Linked DNA regions of Homo sapiens. The protein of the gene in region 1 purifies or fractionates together with the protein of each later gene. This does not show direct contact. Each region holds a gene or a part of one and is shown in the gene's direction. Other genes may lie near its edges.

Region 1 (3,500 bases):
TGCTAGCTAACGTTTTTCATTTGATCCTTATGTATATTCATGTACTTGGGATTTTTTTTTTTTTGTACGACCTGCCCCTTTTTTTGTACACTGGCCATTTGTGGATATATATTGAATATTTCACATATTTGATGTGATTTGTATTTTTTGTAGGATGCTTCACAGTTTAAATGTCAAGATCTCAGACTACCTAGGCTTTGAAAGTTAAGATTCATTTTTATGTAAAAATCTTATGTTTTATGAATAATGCTTTAAAAGTTAACATGTAATAATTAATCTTTTTACTGATTTCACTTTTAGGTGTTAGAAGATAATGACTATGGCCGAGCAGTAGACTGGTGGGGCCTAGGGGTTGTCATGTATGAAATGATGTGTGGGAGGTTACCTTTCTACAACCAGGACCATGAGAAACTTTTTGAATTAATATTAATGGAAGACATTAAATTTCCTCGAACACTCTCTTCAGATGCAAAATCATTGCTTTCAGGGCTCTTGATAAAGGATCCAAATAAACGGTAAGCCTCAAATAACGCTTAGTGAATTACTGATGAATGTGGTTAAAAATTGAGATATGGAAATTAATTCAAATATAACTAACTCCAAGAAGCAATGTATTTGGTGTAGACATCTTCCCACTGAGATCCTGACTTATTTTTAACTGCATAATATAGAACATTTAAAAATTTTTCTCAACTCTTTCCTAACTTGGAAATTTTATGCAGATTTACCAAATAAGGATTTTGAGAGTTTCATTATCCATATTATGAGTGAAAATTTCTTAATTGCTCTGTTACTTGATCTTGTGGGGATAGAAGAATCACTTTTCTTTCTTTCAGTCTCTGGGCCTTTGTATTTCTTATAAAAGGAATAGACCTATTTTTCAATACTCTCCTCCCACCCGCAACCTGTGTTAACATATCTAATTGCATTTTTTTTTTTTTTTTTTTTTTTTTTTGAGACAGAGTCTCACTCTGCCACCCAGGCTGGAGTGCAGTGGCGCGATCTTGACTCACTGCAACCTCTGCTTCCCAGGTTCAGGTGATTTTCCTGCCTCAGCCTCCCGAGTGGCTGGGACTACAGGCACCTCCACCACGCCTGTCTAATTTTTGTGTTTTTAGTAGAGACGGGGTTTTGCCAAGTTGGCCAGGCTAGTCTTGAACTCCCGACCTCAAGTGATCCGCCTGCTTCGGCCTCCCAAAGTGCTGGGATTACAGTCGTGAGCCACCGCACCCGGCCTCTAACTGCTTTTTTGTCATTTGAAAATAATCTTTTCTATGCATAGCTGAAAGAGTTGATGGCAAAAAATAATTGTACACACTTTTAATTTCTGTTTTTGTAGCTACAGCTATGAATTGAAGAACTCTATGGCTCTTGCTGCTTTGTTCAATGAGCTACAGTATTTTTATTCATGTTTATACATTCATTCATATTTATAAATTCATAAATCATATGTGAAATGACTATTAATATTAAAATGTTTCTTAATATGTGTGTTTGTATATGGATATATCTGCCTTCCCATCTAGGTATCTGTGCATATCAGTATTTCTCTGAGTCTACTCATTTGAAGCATAGATGATTTCACATATTGTTGAATATTTTATAATACCTCACATAGAGTTTTATGAAAATGTTTTACGTATGGTTGATGCTCATATATATATATATTATATATATATGAGTGGGTTAATGAGTGAATCCCAAAAAGTTGGATTTTTAAGTCTATCTGAGAAATGGTTTTCATTGTATTCTTCTAGCTTTTAACCTTGTAAGGAACATGGCTTTATCTTCAGCAGAAATAAGCAAACATAATAAAAGAGATATTGTCTTTCTGCTTTGTGAAGACTCATTCAAGAAACATTTTGTAATCCTAGCTGCAGATATTATTTATATGTGTAAAGTGATTTTGTTTTCTTCTTCAGAGCACTTTCACAGCTATTAATTCCCTTGCTTTTTCAGGAGCCTTGTTGGGTGGATAGGGGAGATACTATTCTTATTTCCATTTCATTGAGTTGAAAACAAAGGCCCAGAGAGGGTTAGGTGATTTCTTCAAGGTCTCTCAGAACATTCATGCAGACCAAGAGTAGAAGTCAAGTTTCTTGGTGCCTATTTGGTATTTCTTATGTATCTTATTTACAATGCAGCAGTTTCTCAGTTTAAGTTTTGAAATGTGTTCCGTTTGATAGCGTTCTTTTACAATTAAGTAAGGAGCAGCACCCGATGATAGGTAACTTTAAACAGAGTGGTGACTTTTATCTTTTTTTTTTTTTTTTTTTTTTTTTTTTGAGAGGGAGTCTCGCTCTGTTGTCTGGGCTGGAGTGCAGTGGCGCAATCTCGGCCCACTGCAACCTCCGCCTCCTGGGTTCAAGCAATTCCCCTGCCTCAGCCTCCTGAGTAGCTGGGACTACAGGCGCCTGCCACCACACCTGGCTTTTTTTTTTTTTTTTTTTTTTTGGTATTTTAGTAGAGATGGGGTTTCACCATGTTGGCCAGGATGGTCTCCATCTCCTGACCTCGTGATCCACCCCCCTCGGCTTTCCAAAGTGCTGGGATTACAGGCATGAGCCACCGTGTCCAGCCGACTTTTATCTATTTCATTTTTTGGTCTAATATTTGGCTTGGTATTCGAGGCAGTGAATATTTATCTCATCGTTTTCTTATTCCTGCAGGCAACTTTGACCACCCTTTACTTTGTGGCCCTCTTTATATAAGTGGCTAGTAGAACAAAATGTACTTGTGGTTTTCATGTGTATGTCTCATTCATTTTTTTTTATTTGTCAGCCCACTCCATGAATAGCACATAGTCGGTACTTAGGAACTATTGAATGAATGTGAGGCAAATTCTTAGAATGTTAACCGCCTAGTATGTATTAATAGAACAATTCCTAACTGTTTGTTCACCAGGAGGTTGATATTGATCTAATGAGAAGATGCAGTATTTTCAATGATCTAATAATTTCTTTTATAATAGATGTGTCAAGCCCCTCCACTGCTGCATCAAAATACAGAGAATACAAGGATGAGTGAGATGAACCAGTCTCTGCTCTAGATGTTCATAGAATAATTTGGGGCACAAAACATATACTCACAGATGCTCAGGTCAAACTACATACAAAGTACTGTTGAAATTATTGGCTTTGTCTAGGGGATTGGGGGACTTGAGCTGGATCAGAAAGGAGTTTGAATTTGCATTGGCACTCAAGCACAGAAATTTACATGTAGAGTATAGCTAGGATTGCAAAAGAACATGGCATTTGAGAAGTTCAGTGACTAGAGTGTAGAATATGAGTTGGGTAACACTGGGAAATGAAGCTGATATATTAGATTATAAGGATCTTAGGTTTCTTAGAAAATATTTAATCTTCATTCAGAAGAGGGTGAGATACTGCTTAAGTGTTTAAAGCAAGGGATAGTATAATCAGATTTGTGTCATGAAAAGGTAACTCTGGCAGCTTTGTCATGGACAGATTAGATGAGTGAGGATCCAGGGGCAGGCAGAG
Region 2 (3,500 bases), on another chromosome or scaffold:
GCAGCCTGCAGGCCCATCCTGATGGGGCCTCTCCAGACTTTTTCAGCCCAGGGCTGTCTGATGATGCTTCTGCCAGGTGCCAGTGTTCTCTGCCAGTGCTGCCAGACACAGGTGCTTCTGAACACTTGACTGGTGATTATTGCAACTGGGAGCTGAGTCTTTCACCTTTTAAAATTTTAATCCATTTAAACTTACATAGCTGTGTGCGGCTAGTTCCAGTGGACAGCGAGGCTCCAGCCTTTGGATTTGCCACTCTTTGTTTGCCACCGCAGCTTCCCAGGCCTCACCTGGGGTCTCAGGCTTTCTCTCTCACCTTGGCCTGGAGAGCTTTCTTGCCCCTTTCTCAGAATGCCTGTTGTTTAAGCTGCAGCTGGGGCTCCCCCAGGAGGCCTTCTGAGAGTATCCCTCTCACACCCCACGCCCTCCCCTGTCCGAAAACCTCCTATGGGATTATGATTGTCCCTTTACTTGCCCCTCTGACCCACTGAATTCTGAGCAGCTCCTTGGAGCCAGGACTATTACTTTGTAAGCTTTTGTGTCATTGGTTTGTGGCCTGTGATGCACAGAACAACCCCTGCTTCCTTCTTGCTGGTGGAGGGAGTTAGATAACATGATCTTAAGACTCATGTGAGCTCTAAAATCATATGATTCAGTGTTCCCAGAATATTCTAGAGTCCTCTTTCAAAAAAACTGTTTCTTAAATTGCTGCTTAAATCTTGTTTTTGCCAGCCTGTATGAGAACAGACCGATCAACTGGCACTAACATATTTGGAACTGATGTGCTTGGACTCAGCTTGCCAGCCATGCAGCCTAGTTCGGTGCAGATTTGGGAGGTGTTAAGAGGTCTTATTTTGAGGAACATAAAGTGACAGTGGCTTAAAGAGGAGATAATTCTCTCTCCTATCTAAAAGCCCACCTCGGGAGTCCTGGGCTGGTGTTGGGGTGCAGCGTTCCCAGAGACCTGCTGATTTTTATTTGGTGCTCAGCTGTGGCTGGTGTGCAGTCTCCATCTGTTCCAGCCTGGCCTGAGGAGGGGGAGATGCACCCCGTCCTTTCGTGCTCCACCTGCCAGCCATACAAGTCCCTTTGCTCATGTCCCCTTGGCCCAACCATAATCACATCGTCCTTAAAAGGGCAGCTTGGAGGCAGGGGGGATCAGAGATCTTAGCCGTTGTGATTGCATTTATGACTCCTGTGAGGGCCGGGGGAACGTAGGTGTTAAAGTGTGCAGATGGGTATGTGGCTCCTCTGCCCCTTGCCAGGGTCTTGGGAAGGGGTGCCCCTGACAGTTTCTGGCCTTTCTGAAAAACATGTCCTTAGTTTGCTGTGACACACACCCACGTTATATAGAGCTCTGACCTACAAAGCCTATGCTTTCCAGACATCTAAGGGGAGGAAGTGACGTTTAGACTGTAATCTTAAAGGCCAGTGGTAAACAGGACTTTGCATCTGCAACACATCGGGGTGCTGACGTCCTTTGCTTTTTATGATGTCTCTGTTCTCCTTGTCCATGCTACAGCCAGCCGCTTCCACTTATTCATAGTGGGCACCATCCTGGAGGAGTTGGGGAAAGAGGATCCCCCAGCCCCCAATTAGGGTAGTTGCACCTGGGAAAGTCAGAGCTTCCTGCTGGTTTGGAGGAGGTAGGCAAGTTGGAGAGACTCCTTGTTAGAATGAGGAGCATTGGCAAAGCGTTGTCTTATCATAAGTGCTCTGCTAAGTGCTCTGCGTGGCTTAAGGACTCATAGAGCTGGAAGAGGAGAAATACCAAATGGATTAACTTTGCAATTACATGTGGATGGCTTGAGCAGTTAAGTAAGTAGCAAACTAAGGCTAAGGAACATAATGGGAAAACCAGCTGTTTGTGTGAATGTATGTGTGAGTGTGTGTCTGTCTGTCTGTCTGTGTGAGAGTGGGCGTGAAGTTAAAGCTAACTTCCAGCACTTGGCAAAGCAGCAGATTACCAAATCAGTTCTGGCGGTTTTCAAACTTAATGGCTTGGGAGTTGTATTTAAAAATAGTCTTGGGTAGGAGTGTTAATGCAGCCGAAGTGTATACTTTTGTTCATGTGGCTAATTTTTTAGTCTCTAAATACAGTTTGGTTGGCTAGAACCCTCTTAATTAAGTGCAAAATCCACTAGTGTTCAATGCACAAACTGTTAGGCTGGAGGGAGACTGATCGACAGCAGCCAGAGTCTAAACATTTGCCATGCAGGGCAGGTCCTTGCCAGGCTTTCCCGTCCGCCCACCTATCCATCTGTCTTGTTGTCTATAGCTACCAGGTAGAATTGGTTTTGGGTGGAACTGAAAACTTCCTTCCTCCTGCTCCTGCCTAAACCACTTATTACGTGATAATGGTTATCTGCGCTCTGACAACATCACACGTAGGAAGAGTGAATTGCAGATCTCTCACAAGAGCCAAGCCACCCAATTGGATTTAAAAAGTGGGAATTGGGGTGATGAAGTCTGAATGTTTTTCATGCTGTGACAACGCTCTAAATTGCTACACTTTACCACTTCTCAGAAATATTTGATTGGTTTCAACGGCACAAGCCATAATCAAAGACTGTGTTCTGAATGCAGTTAATTTGTGAATTTCACAGTCAACAGAAAAGTAAGGAAAACTAGTTTGGAAGCTAGACTAAACTGAAAAATATGTCAGTTTGGAATATTTCCTTATTATTTGTCCATTTCTTTTTGCTTACCATCATGTTTCACATTTTTAGAATGATAGATTTTTCTAAAGGAGGACCCAAAAAATGTTCTTTGCAAGGACTTGCCTTATTTTGGCATTAGAGCCACTTGCCTGTTGCCATTGTCTAGCTGACAGAGATAGGAGATGGCCAGAACCTGCTCCTTGTGTGTGGGAGGTCTGGCTCTCCCATCAGGGCCCTCTGATGTTGGTAGGACAGTACTGTCCTCTCCTTTTTTTGTTTTTGTTTTTGTTTTTGTTTTTGTTTTGAGATGGAGTCTTGCTCTGGCACCCAGGCTGGAGTGCAGAGGCGTGATCTCAGCTCACTGCAACCTCTACCTCCTAGGTTCAAGCAATTCTCCTGCCTCAGCCTCCTGAGTAGCTGGGATCACAGGCCTGCACCACCACGCCTGGCTAATTTTTTTTTGTATTTTTAGTAGAGCCGGGGTTTCACCATATTGGTCAGGCTGGTCTTGAACTCCTGACTTCAAGTGATCCACCCGCCTTGGCCTCCCAGAGCACTCGGATTATGGGCCTGAGCCACTGCACCCGGCCTGTCCTCTTGGTTTTGTAGGTGAGATTGCCATGTGACTCTGACGTCTCTCGTCAGTGTCCACGTCCTCATCGTTGGCCACTCTGCTAGGCCACATTGAAGCACGGAGCTCATTTCCAAAGCTGCTTTATGAAAGCTACTGCTCTAGCTCCCTGCAGGATGAAGGAGGATGTTGCTCTGCTCTATTTCTGAAGCCCTGGAGTGTCTCAGCAGCATTTTGCCATGAAAAGCCAGTGTGCCTGCAGACATTCTTAC
Region 3 (3,500 bases), on another chromosome or scaffold:
GTGTGGAGAGCCAGGCTTTTGATAGAGTGTCTGCATGGCTGTCTGCACCTGCTTACTTATAGGGACTGTCAGCTTCTCAGGAAAAACCATTGGAGTAAGTACCCCCCAGTCACTCCTGCTGGGAATGGCCCTCAAGTGATTGTCCCTGGAGGGAAAGAAGCAGCAGTTGGGTTGCACTATCTCCATTCCTATGACTCCAGTTTGCTTTCCTTTTTTTTTTTTTTTTTTTTTGAGATGGAGTTTCGCTTTGTCGCCCAAGCTGGAGTGCAATGGTGAGATCTTGGCTCACTGCAAGCTCCGCCTCCCGGGTTCACGCCATTCTCTTGCCTCAGCCTCCCAAGTAGCTGGGACTACAGGCGCCCGCGATCAAGCCCGGCTGATTTTTTGTGTTTTTAGTAGAGACAGGGTTTCACCGTGTTAGCCAGGATGGTCTCGATCTCCTGACCTCGTGATCCGCCTGCATTGGCCTCCCAAAGTACTGGGATTACAGGCGTGAGCCACTGCACCCGGCCCTTTTTTTGTTTTTTTCCTGAGACAGGGTCTCATGGTGTCACCCAGGCTGGAGTACAGTGGCACAAACATAGCTCACTGCAGTCTCAAACTCCTGGGCTCAAGTGATCCTCCTGCCTCAGCCTTGCAAGTAGCTGGGACTATAGGCACGTGCCACCATGCCCTGCTAATTTTTTTATTTTTTTGTAGAGGCAGGGTCTCTATGTATTACCCAGGCTGGCCTCAAACTCCTGGGCTCAAGCAGTCCTCCCACCTCAGCCTCCCAAACTGCTGGGATTGTAGGCATGAGTCACCTCACCTGGCCTCCAGTTTGCTTTCCATGGTCATTAACCATTTGCACACTGAGGCTCTGCTCTGAGGTTAGCTGTCCAGAGTACTTAAGATAATTTAATTGCCGAAGGGAGTGTCATGTATGAATATTTGAGTCTGTGGAGTCTTAAAAATATCCAGCGACACCATAAACAGCTCATTAGCCAGCAGAACCTTTGAGTGGGTCAGAAAGAAACTTTCCCTCATCAATCTCCACATTCCCAGCTCCGTGTTGCATGTTTGACTCTGAAGCCTATATACAGGCTTGGATGGCAGTTGTGCCAAAGACCCGTACCTGGATAAGGTGAATCCGAGGTGAGCAGGTAGGGCTGCAGGTGTTAATGGCACCCTGTTTGGTTAAGCAAACAAGGTCTGTGCCCAGGAAGCTTACCTTGGAGCAGCTCCCAAGTCTTTGGACATGAAACAGGCAGTGCTGGGAAGAAGGGGATGTAGGCTGGGCACCAAAGCCAGAGCACAGCCCATGTCCTGAGGCCTTAGTCACATGGAGGGAAGAAATTATTAAGGATGGGTTAAAAGAGCTTGGACATTAATGCAGTGAGGGAGAAACGATGGACCCTCTTCTCACATTTACCTGAGCTTCCTTTTAAAGTGTTTGAAGGAGCTGGGTGCGGTGGCTCACTCCTGTAATCCCAGCTATTAGGAAGGCTGAGACAGGAAAATTACTTGAGGCCAGGAGTTCAAGACCAGCCTGAGCAACATAGTGAGACTCTGTCGGTATAAATTAAATAAATAAAATTTTTTAAAGTGTTGGAAGCATTCCACACTGTGTCCCTTATTAAAGATTTGGTGGGGGGTTCCTGGTGTAGAGCACTCCAAAATCCCTCCAATCCCCAGACTCCTTTTTATTATTATTATTATTTTGAGACAGAGTTTCGCTCTTGTTGCCCAGGCTGGAGTGCAGTGGTGCAATCTTGGCACACTGCAACCTACGCCTCCTGGGTTCAAGTGATTCTCCTGCCTCAGCCTCCCAAGTAGCTGGGATTACAGGCATGTGCCACCACACCCGGCTAATTTTTGTATTTTTATTAGAGACAGGGTTTCACCATGTTAGTCAGGCTGGTCTCAAACTCCTGACCTCAGGTGATCCACCCGCCTCAGCTTCCCAAAGTGCTGGGATTACAGGCATGAGCCACCACACCCGGCCTTATTATTTTATTTTATTTTATTTTATTTTTGAGGCAGTCTAACTCTGTCGCCCAGGCTAGAGTGCAGTGGCATGATTTCAGCTCACTGCAGCCTCCACCTGCCAGGTTCAGGCTGAGACAGGAGAATCCCGGGTAGCTGGGATGACAGGCACGCACCACCATGCCCAGCTAATTATTTATTTATTTATTTATTTATTATTATTTTCCTCAAGATGGAGCCTTGCTCTGTCGCCCAGGCTGGAGTGCAATGGTGCGATCTCGGCTCACTGCAACCTCCACCTCCTGGGTTCAAGCAATTCTCCTGCCTCAGCCTCCCGAATAGCTGGGTTTACAGGCGCGCTACCACGCCTGGCTAATTTTTTGTATTTTTAGTAGAGATGGGGTTTCACCACGTTGGCCAGGCTGGTCTCGAACTCCTGACCTCGTGATCCGCCCGCCTCAGCCTCCCAAAGTGCTGACATTACAGCCATGAGTCACCGCGCCCGGCCTATTTTATTTTATTTTTGAGGCAGAGTCTCATTCTGTCACCCAGGCTGGAGTGCAGTGGCACCGTCTCAGCTCACTGCAGCATCCGCCTCCTGAGTTCAAGCAATTCTCCTGCCTCGGCCTCCCGAGTAGCTGGGACCACAAACCCGGCTATTTATTTTTGTAGAGACAGGGTCATGCTTTGCTTCTGAGTCTGACCCTCTAGTTTTTTATTATTTGAAAGGAGAGGCCAGGTGCGATGGCTCACACCTGTAATCCCAGCACTTTGGGAGGCTAAGCAGATCACCTGAGGTCAGGAGTTCAAGACCAGCTTGGCCAACATGGTGAAACCCCATCTCTAATAAAAATACAAAAAAAAATTAGCCGGGCCTGGTGGCAGGCGCCTGTAATCCCAGCTACACAGGAGGCTGAGGCACGAGACTCACTCGAACGATTCTGGGTGACAAGAGTGAAACTCCGTCTCAAAGAAAAAAGAGAGAGAGTTTGATTTTTTTGCTTCCTAAAAGACCAAAAAAGTCCTTCATTGCCAAATCTGAGGAAAAAGGGTCAGCAGAGCAATACCATATTTATCCATTGACATAAAGTAGCGAGGCATTTTCTCATATAGACCTTTATTTTCATGTTCTGGAAGATGAGTTAGGAAGGCACAGCAATATTGTTTCTTCTTTTTTTTTTAATTTGAAACAGGGTCTCACTTTGTCACCCAGGCTGGAGTGCAGTTGCAGCCTCAACCTCCTGGGCTCAAGCAATCCTCCCATCTCAGCCTCCCAAGTAGCTGGGACTACAGGCATGCACCACCACAACCGGCTAATTTTTGTATTTTTTGGTAGAGATGAGGTTTCGCCATGTTGCCCAGGCTGGCCTCAAACTCCTGAGCTCAAGTAATCCACCCGCCTTGACCTCCCAAAGTTCTGGGATTAGAGGCATGCTCCACTGTGCTTGGCCTGGGAAGGCACAGCAATATTGAAAAAAAGGAACATTGCTTTCTAAGGTGAGTTTTAAAAAAAAAAAATGTTCAGTTGTGCACAT
Region 4 (3,500 bases), on another chromosome or scaffold:
TACACTTAATCTACCGAACCTTAAATGTGTCCAGAACAGTCACATTAGCCTACAGTTGGGCAAAATCGTCTGGTAACACAGTCCACTGTAGAGTATTGGTTGTTCATCCTTGTGATGGTGTAGCTGACTGGGAGCTGCGGCTCGCTGCCACTGCCCAGCATTGTGATGGGGTATCGTACTACATGTGGCTAGCCCCAGAAAACATCACAATTCAAAATTCTAAGTATGATTTCCACTGAATGCCTATCATTTTTGCACCATTATAGAGTAAAAAAATCCTAAGTTGAACCATTGTAAATTGAGGACCCTCTGTGCTTGTGTAGCTAACTACTAAGTGGTGGAAGTGCGATTGGGGATCCCAAAGTCCATACTCTTTAGGTATATACTGTATGGTATGATGTATTTTAATAATAACAACAGTTTGATTATCTAGTTGGTTAGCCCCTGGCAGATGTCAAATTACTTTCACGTCTATTATTGTAGTTGATTCTTCCAAAAACCACTGTGAGATAGGTTTGGAAGCCCAGGTTAGGACATTACAACTCTTAGAACTGTATTGCTAAAGAGCTGTATGTTATGGCCTGTATGAATAAGCTGTAAGTGAATGAAACTTTACTTTTAAAAAGTTAGGTTGCCAACATTTAAAAATAAGTTCTTTTTTCGAAACATTTAAAAGTGGTAGAACAGAGTAGATCTTATATTGCACTCAAGGCTTTTATGTTTATTGAAATCCATTTTAAGCCCTTTTTATCTTACAGCCTTTAATAGAACATTGCACTTTGCTTCTTAACTGAGACCCGATGCCAGAGTGTCTTTTTAAGAAGAGAAATAAGGAGGGAAGGAATGTGCTTATAAAGAGGAAGTGGGACATCAGAATTGGAAACACTCGCAGCAGCAGGCCATAGATTTTTCCCAGCACATGCTTTTTGTCCTGGCAGTAGCCTTTTACAGAAGGCATTCTTCCTTAGGGAAGTGTCAAGGGTCTTTCTTTACAGTATCCTCTGAGATCATCAAATTTCTGAGCTCTGTGGGAACACTCATTCCACATGATTTTTGTGCTCATCCCTTCCCCACAGGGGAAGTGAACTAGTTTAGGCATCTGCATGAAAAGGGAATAGCAGTGGTATCTGTCCTTAGGGTGGCACTGAGAGTGGCACTGGGCAAGAGGTACCAGACTTTGACACCAAGTACAGGAGCAGACTGGAGTTTAACACTTGGCATCATGGATTGTTTGTGGATTCCTCAGAATGCTCCTGGGCAAATGGAAAAGTCAATATTAGGTTTTTGTTGTTGTTGTTGTTTCTAAGATAAGAATTTGAAGACTGGAAGTTCTGCCTTGTTTATTTATTTCAAGCTAGGACACCATTTGGGGTCTTCAAGTTCTGTGGTATAGGTGAGAGTAACTTTAGTCTCCTCAGGCTATGAAATTCTCCTCCACTGGCTATTTTAGACTTTTGCCTCTGGAGGAGAGGCAGACACATGGTTTGCTAAACTCTAACAGGTGAGCACCTTCCAACTTACCATAAGCAGCATAGAGGAGGAAAAAGGATGCTTCCCAGCATTACACTCTTACAGCCTTTGGTAGGTCTTTGCAGTTGTCAGCCTCTTCCTCATCAGTTCATATTTTATTAAGCACACAGGTCATGCAAGACAATGCATTAGACCCATTTTAAAAGGAAGAAAGGAAATCCATTGTGCTTTCAGGGTCGTTGTAGCAGGGCAGGTGGATGCATCCCAAGAGTGGATGTTGGTGAAATGAAGAAAATGGCTATGACAGCTGTAGTGACCAAGACCAGGGGAACACTTGCTTTTGAGACAAAAGCTGAGAACAAACAGAAGCAAGAGAGTGGAAGAAAACTGAACACAGGTGCCAGCTTCTCTGACTTAGGTTTTATTTCCTCCAATCTCCAATGATGTGAAAGCGTTCAGGTTCAGAACCCTGACTGAGGTCCAAAAAATGATATATAAACTACCATTCTATGCGAGAAGGTTTGAATAGCAGTGTCTTCCCTGGTGCATGGCAGGTCCTTGGTACCTCCGCCAACTCTCTTCTCTACACACCTGCCAGCATCCCTTCCTCATCCTGTGTTCAATGTGGCTGTCAACTAAGGCTGTTAATAGACTTCAGGCATATTTGCATTTTAAAAGGCTCTTGTGGACAAGACATGCCAAATCTCCAAAGAATGAGTCATTCACATTGAGTTATATGATATTATTCATGCTACTGTTTATTAAGTATTGGGTGCTTGCTTTGTGCTAGGCCTCATGCTGGGTACTTTCTGTAGGTTGATTTCCTTCTCATCACTATCCCTTAGTAGGAGGTATTTGTAGATGAGGGAATTGAGTCACTAGCCCAGAGGTCAAGCCTCAAAGACCCCTTTGCTTTCCAGAACAACGAAGTGCCACCAGGTAGAGTGTACTGTGAAGCTTTGAATGAGTACTGTGGAGCTTTGGGCAAAAACTTTGATTCTTTGGGTGAGTACTTTGATGCTTTGGTCACTTTTAAGGAGTTCTTTTTAAGGAGTTAGAGGGAGAGCCCAGCTGTTGTCCCTCTCCTTCCTGGCTTGTTTCCTTTGTCACCTGAAGTCAGGATTCCTGTAGGTGTCCTTGGCTGGTCCAAAGCTAGGAGAATTGGTTGAACTGCTTCTCAGTTTATCCTTTTCTGGGTGTTTTGGCTTCCCAGTCCTGCGTCATTCTCCTTCCCCAGCTGAGGGAGACAAGATTCAGCCTGCTAGTGAGAGACTGAATAGCCAGTCCCTTTTCTTACCCCCTTGCTGGCCATGCCTTTATCTTCAGGAATAGATTGTCATCTGGGAGTTTCAGGGCGTTTGTCTGATCTCTGGTCTCCAGTCTGCCTGCGAGCAGCATGCCACAGGGCATCCAGTCCTGGAGCTCGCTCAGATCTTTGATGTGTGAGAATAAGCGGTGTGGATGCCATTGCAGAGCTGGGTTTTGGGAAGAGAGTTGGGGTGAAATTTGTACTCTTCCAAGATAGGCAGTTTTATAAATAGCAGAAAAGTAAAAATTGACATTCTTCTTTTGCTTATCAGATAAGCACCTGATAAGTTTCTGAAAATGCAAGGGGCCTGTCTTTCCTTGATAGCTTAAGAGAGGCTTAAGAGGAAACCAAATCTCTGCCTTCCGGGGACTTTCAGTCCAATTCTTCCTGGACTCAAGATGCTTTAAGATTGCACAGATGGCTTAAGTTCGCTGTGTTAAAATGAAAATATAGTAATGTATTTCAGAATTGTACATTACAGGTTTTTAAATTTGTTTAAAAAAAGAATGCAATATCTTTAAAGACTTTTTAGAAAATTGAATTGAAAGGACAGTGGAACAGATTATTAGTTATCGACATTATAATACATTTACACGTCATTTGCCTACTTAATTTTCACTGGTTACATGAAAGCATTTTCACATTGCAACCACAACAAAAAGCTCCCCCAAAATACACAAAGAATCTTAATTGCAAGATTCCTGCTGGTCCCACTTAACAT
Region 5 (3,500 bases), on another chromosome or scaffold:
TTTCAAGGAGTAATTTGGTATGATGCAAAAGATTTTGAAGAATAAAAACGGATATCTGGAGTGGGTAGAGAGGTGGAATTTGTCCCATTTTCATCTGCCTTTTCTTCTATGAAGAATTTGGAAAACTATCTATCAGAAGCACTTTAAGAACAATTATAAGACATTTTACTACTTCCTTTGCCAGTACAAAATGTAACATAATTGAGGAATACTAAATTTATATTCAGTGCAAAAGCTGTGCATTGGAATTTGATGATTATATTTAACCATATTTTTTGCAAATTTAAAAAGATTAGAATTTCTACATGACTAGATTAGCTGGTATTTGATATTTAATGAATAACAGTAAGTGTTTGGAAAAGTAATTCTGGATAAGAATTACCTGTGATCCTCAGTTTCATCATCTGTAAAATTAGAATAATAATAGTGCCTACTTTATAGGATTCTTACGACAATTACATGAGATGAATTATGCAAACTACTTAGAATAGTGTCTGGTATAATAAACTTCATGTGAGTGTTATTATTTTGAACCATAGTTAACAATCGTCTTATTGGGAAAATACCATTTGCATGTACTAGTTATAAAAACTATGTGTAGGGCTATATCATTGGGGAGGTGACAGCATTTTATACTTCTTTTTGTAGTGGACAGTTGATTAGGAATTAAGTACAGATGTTTTGCCAATTATAAGGAAATAAAATTTTTAAAGGAGTTTTTAACAGTTTATGAAACTGTTATGATGTTTTAACAGGAATTGTCTAAGAAATGCTTTCTATTGGCATATTTGCTAAATTATCTTTGTTCTACTACCTTCTTTCAGACTTCTGCATTTTCATAAAGCTTATTTGAAAAAAAGGTGTAATCGGGGATAAAGCCACAAATGTCTTAGGAGTTTCTGTAATCATCACCCTTAATTCACTTAATTGTAGCAATAAGCTGGCTGTGAATTACTTAAAACTTTATGAGGCCAGGCGCAGTGGCTCACACCTGTAGTTCCAGCACTTTGGGAGGCCAAGGTGGCAGATCGCTTGAGCCCAGGAGTTCAAGACCAGCCTGGGCAACATAGGGAAACCCCATCTCTACAAAAAAATAAATTTAAAAAAAATTAGCTGGACATGGTGAAGCGTGCCTGCAGTCCCAGCTACTCAGGAGGCTGAGGTGGGAGGATTGCTTAGGCGGGAGGTCAAGGCTGCAGTGAGCCATGTTCGTGCCACTGCACTCTGGCCTGGGAGAAACAGACCCTGTCTCAAAAAAAAACAAAAACAAACAACAACCACAAAAACACCTTGATAAACAATTCATGCCATTCAAGTAGTAATGAATGCAGATTATTTTTAGTCTCTACCTTTTGGTATATGTCATGTGGTACGGGAAGGGTGTTGAACAGGTTTAGGAAGTAAGTTGCACAGGTTGGTAAGGTTTTGTTTGTTTGAAAGAGTGTAGTAATGATAGAGTTCTAACAGAGTACAAGCCTGGCAAAGGCAATTGCTTGAGAACAATATCATGGCTAGAATGTAAGTAGAAATTCAACTTCAGGTTTCTCGTGCCTCCAAATGTAGGACCCTTCACAGCCCTCACCAGCCTGAAGGTTCTGTCACTTCAGAAAACCAGGCTGTCTTCTGCCTCCTATTGAAATGGAAATGCATGGATAACTAACACCTTTAACTGGTTTTGGGTTAAGTGATTTGTAAAGCTCTGTACTTTTTGAGTTCTAGTGCAAAGTTTTATTCTCATTTGTTGCCATAAAGGAGTAAGAAGCAACTATTTGTCAATTAGAGAGGGCATTGTGGGAAAGAGACCCTAAGAACTTTTTTTTTTTTTTTTTGAGACAGGGTCTCACTCTGTTGCCCAGGCTGGAGTGCAGTGGTGCAATCATAGCTCATTGCAGCCTCAAACTCCTGGCCTCAAATGATCCTTCCACCCCAGACTTTCAAAGTACTGGGATTATAGATGTGAGCCACTGTGCCTGGCAACTACCTGATTTTTAATTTTTATTTATTTATTTTTTCAGACAGGGTCTTGCTCTGTCATCCAGGCTGGAGTGCAATGGCATGATCACGGCTCACTGCAGCCTCAAGCTTCTGGGCTCAAGCAATCCTCCCAGCTCAGCCTCCTGAGTAGCTGGGACTACAGGCACATGCCACCACGCCTGGCTAATTTTTTAATTTTTTGTAGAGATAGGGTTTCACCATGTTGCCCAGGCTGGTCTTGAACTCCTGAGTTCAGGTGGTCCGCTCATCCCAGTCCCCCAAAGTGCTGCGATTACAGAGGTGAGCCACTGGCCAGGAACTTTTTTGCGGGGGCAAGGAGGGGATGGTGGTCCAGACCAGAGAGTAGTTGGAGGTTTATTCATTCAGAAGATAATTGACCCCAGCAGCAGCTGCGAAGATATAAGCTTTATTTTTGTAAATTTCTGGATAAACCATTTGAAAGTTGCAGGTATTGGAACTCTTTACCCCTTCATACTTCTGCATGTATCCCTTAAGTATTGGGATGGTTTTTACGTAACAACAATACTATTATCACACCTAAGAAAGTTGATAATACTTCTTAATACTATCTTTTTTTTTTTTTTGAGACAGAGTCTTGCTCTTGTTGCCCAGGCTGGAGTGCAGTGACTCGATCTCAGCTCACTGCAACCTCTGCCTCCTGGGTTCAAGCCATTCTCTTGCCTCAGCTTCCCAAGTAGCTGGGATTACAGGTGCCTGCCACCAGGCCTGGCTAATTTTTTGTATTTTTAGTAGAGATGGGGTTTCGCCACGTTGGCCAGGCTGGTCTCGAACTCCTGACCTCAGGTGATCCACCCACTTCAGCCTCCCAAAGTGCTGGGATTACAGGCGTGAGCCACCGCACCTGGCCCCTTTTTTTCTTTTTCTTTTTTTTTTTTTAATTGAGATGGAGTTTCACTTTTGTCGCCCAGGCTGGAGTGCAGTGGCGCGATCTCAGCTCACTGCAACCTCCGCCTCCTGGCTTCAAATGATTCTCCTGCCTCAGCCTCCCAAGTAGCTGGGATTACAGGCATGTGCCACCACGCCTGGCTAATTGTTTTTATTTTTAGTAGATACGAGGTTTTACCATGTTGGCCAGGCTGGTCTCGAACTCCTAACCTCAGATGATCTGCCTGCCTCAGCCTCCCAAAGGGCTAGGATTATAGACGTGAGCCACCTTAATATTATCTATCATTCACTTCCTATTCAAATTTCTCCAATTATAAGAAGATAGATTTTGTTTGTTTTATATAATGTTTTAAAATCTCTCTTAATCCCTAAGAGACTAGTCCAGGGCTTGAAGTCTTCATGTCAGGGGGAATGTTAAGGTGTAGTCTATTCCGGGAAGCGCAGGCTTCAACTTTCCTTTATCTAGAGCTACCTTTAGCTGTACTTGTAATCTTTACATAGGTTATCAGTCTGTTCTTCTGCATTAAGATTTGGAATAAAGGCAAGGACAAAATAACTTTTTCTTTTCTTTTTTTTTGAGATGGAGTCTCGTTCTGTCA
Region 6 (3,500 bases), on another chromosome or scaffold:
CATTCTTCATAATTTTTGTTATAGTTCTGAGGATAAACTTTTTAAAGTACTAGACTAGATTATCCTGACAGGTCCATCCTAACTCTGAGGTCCTTTTGATTTGTAGTCAACTTTGTGCTCTCCTCCATTAGTGATGTTTTCTCAAATAAATCAGTATCTGAACACTTACTTCCCAAGTATAAATGACATTCAAACAAGTAATATTCAAAGAGAGCAAAGCACTCAAGATATGAAGTGGAATTCCACTGGAATAGGCAAGGAAGTACTGCCTATATAATCTACTTCTGTAGACTTCTAGAATGTTCTAAAAAAGGAAATGGAAAACAACATGGATAATCTTCAGTCTCATTTTTATTAGACTTTATGAAGTCTAAGAATTTTTTATTTATAGGAATTCAAGTTTTAGTTAAACTAACAATAAAGTAATAAATACCATCAAAATATATACTCTCTGATAACCAAAAGAAGGCTAACAGATCTAATTATGTGCTGGTTAGGCTTTGACATGTTCTTATCTATTGACTCTATAGTCATAGGTCAAAAATAGATTTATCTCTACTTGGTAAAGCCAGCATGTTTAAAAATATTCAACTCTTTCAACAATTGCTCTGAAATATGTAAAGAGAGAAAGAAATCTAAATTACCTAGACTTTATTATTGGTCCTAGATGGTTGTCACTCCCCTCAAATTTATACAGAAAAGTTTTATGAGTTTCAAATAATGCTCATGTTGCAAACTATGTGGTATCCCCTAGAACAGAATTTTTATTGGCAAGCCCCTTGAGCATTATCCTTCCACACTGCATCTCAAAAAAGGAAAAGAAAGAAAAACATAAAAACCCATGTTCTGCAACTTTAACAACCACTTGAAAGCACAGTTACTATGGAAAGAATATAAGACATGATCTGTGATCAAGGAGATTAAATCTGGTACAAGGGATGGGATCAGGATACAAAGCAGGAGTGTCACTTATGTCCTTGTGTACATGCCATAAGATAACACGGGTGGGCACAGGGCAAGTGCAGACAGAAAAATCGATGCTAAAAGCTTTGTAAAGAATCTGAATTTGAGTTGGGTCTTTGAAGTGTGTAGGAAAATAGATCATAGTTGGGCTAGAAACAACGTGGGTCTTATTGTGGATCATTTGGAAATTTGGCCTAAGGAGGTTTATTTTAATATAGGGAGCCAGCAGTAAGCCACTTAAGGCTTTGAGTAGAGAAGTCCTCAGTCTGACAAACTGGAATGGTTAGGTGAGATTAGCCACCCAGAGAAGAGCTAGGCTATGGAACTCAGGATTTATGTCCGATTACTGGAGCTCCCTACGAGCAGGTTCTGTAACGCACTGCCGTGTCTCCAGTGCGTGCGGCTCAGGTGCTCAAACAGTGGCCAACTGGAGGCAGTGTTGACAGTTCGACAAAGAATGAATGAGGCGCTGACCAAGTGGGTGGATGAGGAGTCTTTGGGCTCTCAGTTGTAGTCTGTGAACTACACTTTTAATCTTGGATTAATAACAAACCCAGCCTGAGGAGAGCCTTATACATTTTACTTATAGGGTGACTATTCAGAAGTCTAACATTGTGGCTCCTGTTTGGTGTCCTAAGAACTTCTTCTGAAGTATTTGAAAACGAGAACTCTACCAGCTGTGAACACTCAACTGTTCTAACCCAGAGGTGGCTCAAAACAAATAAATAAATATTGAAATCACAAGCTTTTGTAATACATTTTATCCTACCTTTTGATTGTATAAAGATCCCTAGATTAATAGCTCTTCCAATCCATTTCTCTGATTAAATTTTTTTTTAATTATAAGCTCTTTCTTGTGACAAATTCTTCTTTTATAAAGAGAAAGCCTGGCTTTGGCTTATAAAAACTGTATTTTTATGCCTCACAGTAAAGGAATCCAAAAGATAGATTACCATTTAGGTCTGATTTTGCTGTCTCTTTTGTGGCCATGAAATAGGACTTAAACTTTCTAAACAATTGGGTATTTTTTTTTCTTTTAAAAGCCAAGGAGTTCTATTTGAACCCTTTTGTATTTACTAGTTTGCAAATTTTATATTCCCTTGAAGTTGTTTATTTTCCCCAATGATCAAAATATTTAGTATTCTGCTCAGGGTAATGCAAGATAACTACTATAACTTGCACTTCAGCAAGGCATTTTTTATCATTTATATTCTTCTCTGGGTAGCATAGTTAAGTATTTAATGGATCAAAGTCAAGCAGAAGGAAGTGATGTCAGTATGAAAGTTCTGTTCTAGGATGAGTTATAATTCTGTCTTTTACTGGAATAAAGACATGTCGGATTCATCAAATTTACTGCTTTTAAGCTGAGAATTTTTTATCAAACAGTTGAAAATCCAAAAAATTAACACACCAGAGAAATGATAGAGAGGGGATAGAATTAGTAGAGCTACATATTTGATATGTCTTTCAAATTAACTCTTAAACCCATGTCTCTACCTTGTACAATAGTCCCCCTTTATCTGCAGTTTCACTTTCTGAAATTAAGTCTGTGGTCAACCTTGGTCTGAAAATAAGTGAGTACGGTACAATATAATATTTTGAGAGAAGAGAGACAGAGAGACCACATTCAAATAACTTTTATTACAGCATATTGTTATAATCATTCTATTTTATTACTTGTTAATCTCTTATTGTGCCTAATTGATAAATTAAACTTTATCATGTGTATGTATATGAGAAAAATACTGTATATAGGTTTTGGCACTATGTGCCATTTCAGACATCCACTGTGGGCCTTGGAACATATTCCCTGAGGATAAGGAGGGACTACTGTATATAAATTAAAGATCAGTTGTTGGTTGACTTTAACCACTAAATAGATGAGATTACTGTCACAACACAGGCAACTCTAAGCAATGTTATGAAAAGATGTACAAATAGGAGATCTTAATGTGTGATTGACTAAATTAGATCAGTATTGAGTGTCTCTTTCAGAGGACATAGACAAAAAGGGTAAGCCCAGAGGAGAGACTGGGATGATGAGGATGAGATCCTACTTGACTATCAGCTTCAGCAAGAGCCTTAAATATTAAGAGACATACCTGAAGGCCGTGATATAAAAGAAAAGCCTCTCTCCCACCTCTAGAGGAAAGAACTGGACCGATTTTAGGGAAATGCATTTGATCTTAAATTTCATCACAGCCAGAACTATAAAATATGAATGTATTAGTCGATGAATTTTCTCATTTAGAGAGATGATCCTACATGACTCTGGGGGTACAATAGAGAGGACTGTATGTGTATAGGTAGGAAGCTGAGCTAAGCTTCTGAAATCACTTACTTTCAAGCTCAACATACTTTGATAATCATTTATAGTGACTCACAATCAATTCCCTTTAAGACTTTCAAAGTCACAAATTGAAACAATGCTCATAATGAATTAAGCCAGTCTGTATGTGTGAACCAGGGTGAGCAGAGACATGAAGTAAGCAACAGTAAGATTTCACCTAATGAGGTTGAGACTTAAATAAAAGGGC
Region 7 (3,500 bases), on another chromosome or scaffold:
GCTTGGCATGTAGTAAACCCTCGGTGAAAGGTGGTCGTTACTAATAAACACATCATGTTTCTTTATTAGTCATCTTTAAGAAAGTTTAAAGAAACTGTCATTTAGTGCCTTGTGATAGAAGTGATTAGAAGTAGCCACAGGCCTCCTGAGATAGACTAGGATTCAGGAGATCAATATTAGAGTCCAGAACTTACTAACTAGTGTGTGACTTGGGCAAGTCATAAAGCCTGAGGGTTTCTGATTTTATCATCTCTCCATTTCTACTTGTCATGGGTCGTGAATTACGGAGTCAAATCATTATGAAAATATATGTGACGTGATTTGTTGAAATGTCAAGGAGACATTGCCTAGTAAAACCAAAATGACCCATTATTTTTAGTATTATTTAATACTGATGATTAAGTATTAAATTGAAAAACATTGCAGACAATCCCCTCAACCTGTGTCAGAATTCATATTGAGAGAGATACAGAAACTGAATTGAAAACATTTTCAGAGTAGATTTTGTTTGTCTTGTAGGCATTTTGTTCCCAACATCACCTTTGGTCACCCTGTGGTAGAAAGCCTTCGAAAGCAGCTAGGCCAGGACCCTTTCTTTGGTAAGTGGGTGTTACGCCATCTGAAGCTGGATGTGTTGCTCAAGTAAAGGAAAACTGGATGGTTGATTTTAACTTCCAAGTTCATCTGGCACCCTTTCCCCAACTTTCCTATCCTGGGTCTTCATTGGCCTGACTCCAGTAACAAGCCAAACTTCTTCCTGCCTCTGGGCCTTGGCTAATCTGCATGGAAAGGTAGTAGCTTGGCTGGCTGCCTCATCTTTGGGCCTCAAGTCATTTGTCATTTCCTCAGAGAGGCCTTTTTGAGCGTCCTCTCCCAAATTAACCTTTATCCAATTATCTTATCACCTGTTGATTTTCCTCTGAGAACTTCCTTTGATCTGCGATTACTTTTATTAGACTATAAACTCTCTGAGGGCGGGGATTGAATCCAGTTTGTTTACTGTGGTTTTCCTAAAGCTAAGCATAGACATGATCAGGGCTCAGTGTAATTGTTAAGTGAATTTATGAATCAGTTGATTTATGGTCCAGAAGCCATTTATTTTGTGCAAATTGGAGCTTTCTACAAGTGGTGCCTAAATATTCACTCCAATGTCCTAGTACAATGTAAATTAAGATTTTTAAGATTACTTAGTGGCCTACAAGTGATTTATGTTAAGTTAGCAATGTCTCACCTGCCAGATCTCTTAAACATGAGAAATTTTACACATTTTTATAAATAGTGTTATTTATTTTTTTCTTTTTTTTAAAATAGAGACTGAGTTTCGCCATGTTTCCCGGGCTAGTCTCAAACTCCTGGGCTCAAGCAATCCACCTGCCTTGGCCTCCCAAAGTGCTAGGATTACAGGCTTGAGCCACCAGCCTAGCCATAAATAGTTTTTTTAACGTAGCTTACAATTTAGTAGAACTTAGATTCTTTTTAATCAGCATATTGCTGACCAGTTTTATGAAGGACTCTGTGCTGTTCACTATGGTAGTCATAAGCCACATGTAGCTATTAAAATTAAATAAACTTAAGTTCATGACCAGAATGGCCAACATGGTGAAACCCTGTCTCTACTAAAAATTCAAAAATTAATCAGGCGTGGTGGCAAACACCTATAATCCCAGCTACTCAGGAGGCTGAGGCATGAGAATCACTTGAACCTGGGAGGTGGAGATTGTAGTGAGCTGAGGTCATTCCACTGCACTCCAGCCTGAGTGACAGTGTGACACTCCATGTCAAAAAAAAAAAATTTTTTTTAAATTAAATAACATAAACTTAAAAATTCGGTTTCTTATTCACGTTAATCACATTGCAAGTCTTCAGTAGTCACATATTGTACAGTGCAGCTATGGGACATTTCCAATATCACAGAAAATTCTGTTGAATATAGTCTCCAGCCTCTGTGTAGGATCTATCTACTTTGAGTTCACCAAAGAAAATGTACATTATTACCTCATTTATGTGGCATGAGGAAACAATGTTCCACCAATATATTCACCATTTTGAAATTTCCATATAATGGGATATAGTCCTCTGATTATCTAAACTTTCTTTTAAGCCATGATTAGCTTATATAGCAGATACCGTGACTTTTCCTATGAATTACGGTTGTTCTCATGACCATGAGAGGTAGATGAAATAAATAGCATTGTTTTCTCCCACTGTACAACCAATGGCCAGAATCCTCGCTTCTGGCTTGCTTGTGTGAATTTTTTTAATGCTTGCTTTTTTTCCCCTTTTCGCTCCCTTTTATTTGGGCTCCCATTGTCACACCATACTATTGTCTATATCCCTTCCTGTCAGTGCCTTTCCTTTTAGCAATCCTGTGTTGCTGCCACCACACACAATCTGCTTTTTCTTCTTGTTTTTAATTTGTTGATAAACTTGCTAATTAATCTTTCTAGAATTTGGTCTAAAAGATAAATGAACTCCATTCACTTTAATGTTTGGGTTTTGTGACCCTTGTTTTTTGGTTTTTCGCTTTTTGTTGTTGTTGTTGTTGTTGCTTTAAGAGACAGACTCCGTCTATTACCCAGGCAAGAGTACAGTGGTACAGTCATAGCTCACTGCATCCTTGAACTCCTGGGCTCAAGCAATCCTCCCGCCACAGCTATAGCTAAGACTACAGGTGTGTGCCACCACAACCGGCTATTTTTTTTTTTTTTTTTTTTTTTTACTTTTTGTAGAGATGGGATCTCCCTGTATTGCCCAGGCTAATCTTGAATGCTTGGGCTCAAGCCATCCTCCTGCCTTGGCTTCCCAAAGTGTTGTGATAGTAGGTGTAAGTCACTGAGCCCGACTACCTTTGTTTTTTATATTGAGAAACATTTGTTTAATTCTTGGATTTTGGTTGTTGGATAATTGATACATGAATGTATTCTAGGACCTAGATTACATGTTGTGTTGTATATGTAACGCTAACATTCTTAACTGTTCAGTTTTCATATTGAGTAGAAATAAATGTCTAAGAAATACAGTGATGGGAAAAGTCTGTTCCTGTTATTGTCTAAATCAGTGATCCTCAAGTATGTTGTATAAGGACCCACACAAATCCTTAAGACCCTTTCGGGTCATCCATGAGAGTATATCAAAACTATTTTCATAATCCTAAGAAATTATTTGCCATTATTTCTACTGATGGTACAAAAACATTGATGAGTTAGTTTGCTGGTGCCTTAACCAACTCAAGGCAGGGACTGTATCAGGAGTTATTCTTCATCATCATGCATTTGCAATAAATATCCTTGATGAAGCAGTAGAAATTAATAAATCTTGGTCCCTGAATACATGCCTTTTTAATATTTTGTGTGGCAAAGTAGGAAGTGCATATAAAGTGCTTGTGCTGCATTGCTGCATACTGGAACATAATGGTTTTCTCAAGGAAAACCACTTGCACCATAGAGGTGTGATCTGAACTAGCTGCTTTCCTCCAGAACACTATGTTTGTTTGAAAGAAC

What was found.
Region 2: the proteins of AKT3 (region 1) and COBL purify together in Homo sapiens (affinity purification with mass spectrometry; one large-scale study listed by BioGRID and IntAct). This does not show direct contact.
Region 3: the proteins of AKT3 (region 1) and EIF4EBP1 fractionate together in Homo sapiens (co-fractionation; one large-scale study listed by BioGRID). This does not show direct contact.
Region 4: the proteins of AKT3 (region 1) and MYO1B purify together in Homo sapiens (affinity purification with mass spectrometry; one large-scale study listed by BioGRID and IntAct). This does not show direct contact.
Region 5: the proteins of AKT3 (region 1) and CHP1 purify together in Homo sapiens (affinity purification with mass spectrometry; one study listed by BioGRID and IntAct). This does not show direct contact.
Region 6: the proteins of AKT3 (region 1) and DAB2 purify together in Homo sapiens (affinity purification with mass spectrometry; one large-scale study listed by BioGRID and IntAct). This does not show direct contact.
Region 7: the proteins of AKT3 (region 1) and RPE fractionate together in Homo sapiens (co-fractionation; one large-scale study listed by BioGRID). This does not show direct contact.

The regions. Positions count from the first base shown.
Region 1 is NC_000001.11:243,549,744-243,553,243, reverse strand, and holds part of AKT3 (RAC-gamma serine/threonine-protein kinase), read left to right. Parts: intron 1-300; coding exon 301-515; intron 516-3,500. UniProt on the Homo sapiens protein: AKT3 is one of 3 closely related serine/threonine-protein kinases (AKT1, AKT2 and AKT3) called the AKT kinase, and which regulate many processes including metabolism, proliferation, cell survival, growth and angiogenesis.
Region 2 is NC_000007.14:51,306,810-51,310,309, reverse strand, and holds part of COBL (protein cordon-bleu), read left to right. Parts: intron 1-3,500.
Region 3 is NC_000008.11:38,033,534-38,037,033, forward strand, and holds part of EIF4EBP1 (eukaryotic translation initiation factor 4E-binding protein 1), read left to right. Parts: intron 1-3,500. UniProt on the Homo sapiens protein: Repressor of translation initiation that regulates EIF4E activity by preventing its assembly into the eIF4F complex: hypophosphorylated form competes with EIF4G1/EIF4G3 and strongly binds to EIF4E, leading to repress translation.
Region 4 is NC_000002.12:191,248,404-191,251,903, forward strand, and holds part of MYO1B (unconventional myosin-Ib), read left to right. Parts: intron 1-3,500. UniProt on the Homo sapiens protein: Motor protein that may participate in process critical to neuronal development and function such as cell migration, neurite outgrowth and vesicular transport.
Region 5 is NC_000015.10:41,234,268-41,237,767, forward strand, and holds part of CHP1 (calcineurin B homologous protein 1), read left to right. Parts: intron 1-3,500. UniProt on the Homo sapiens protein: Calcium-binding protein involved in different processes such as regulation of vesicular trafficking, plasma membrane Na(+)/H(+) exchanger and gene transcription. Involved in the constitutive exocytic membrane traffic.
Region 6 is NC_000005.10:39,383,481-39,386,980, reverse strand, and holds part of DAB2 (disabled homolog 2), read left to right. Parts: intron 1-3,500. UniProt on the Homo sapiens protein: Adapter protein that functions as a clathrin-associated sorting protein (CLASP) required for clathrin-mediated endocytosis of selected cargo proteins.
Region 7 is NC_000002.12:210,009,138-210,012,637, forward strand, and holds part of RPE (ribulose-phosphate 3-epimerase), read left to right. Parts: intron 1-519; coding exon 520-599; intron 600-3,500. UniProt on the Homo sapiens protein: Catalyzes the reversible epimerization of D-ribulose 5-phosphate to D-xylulose 5-phosphate.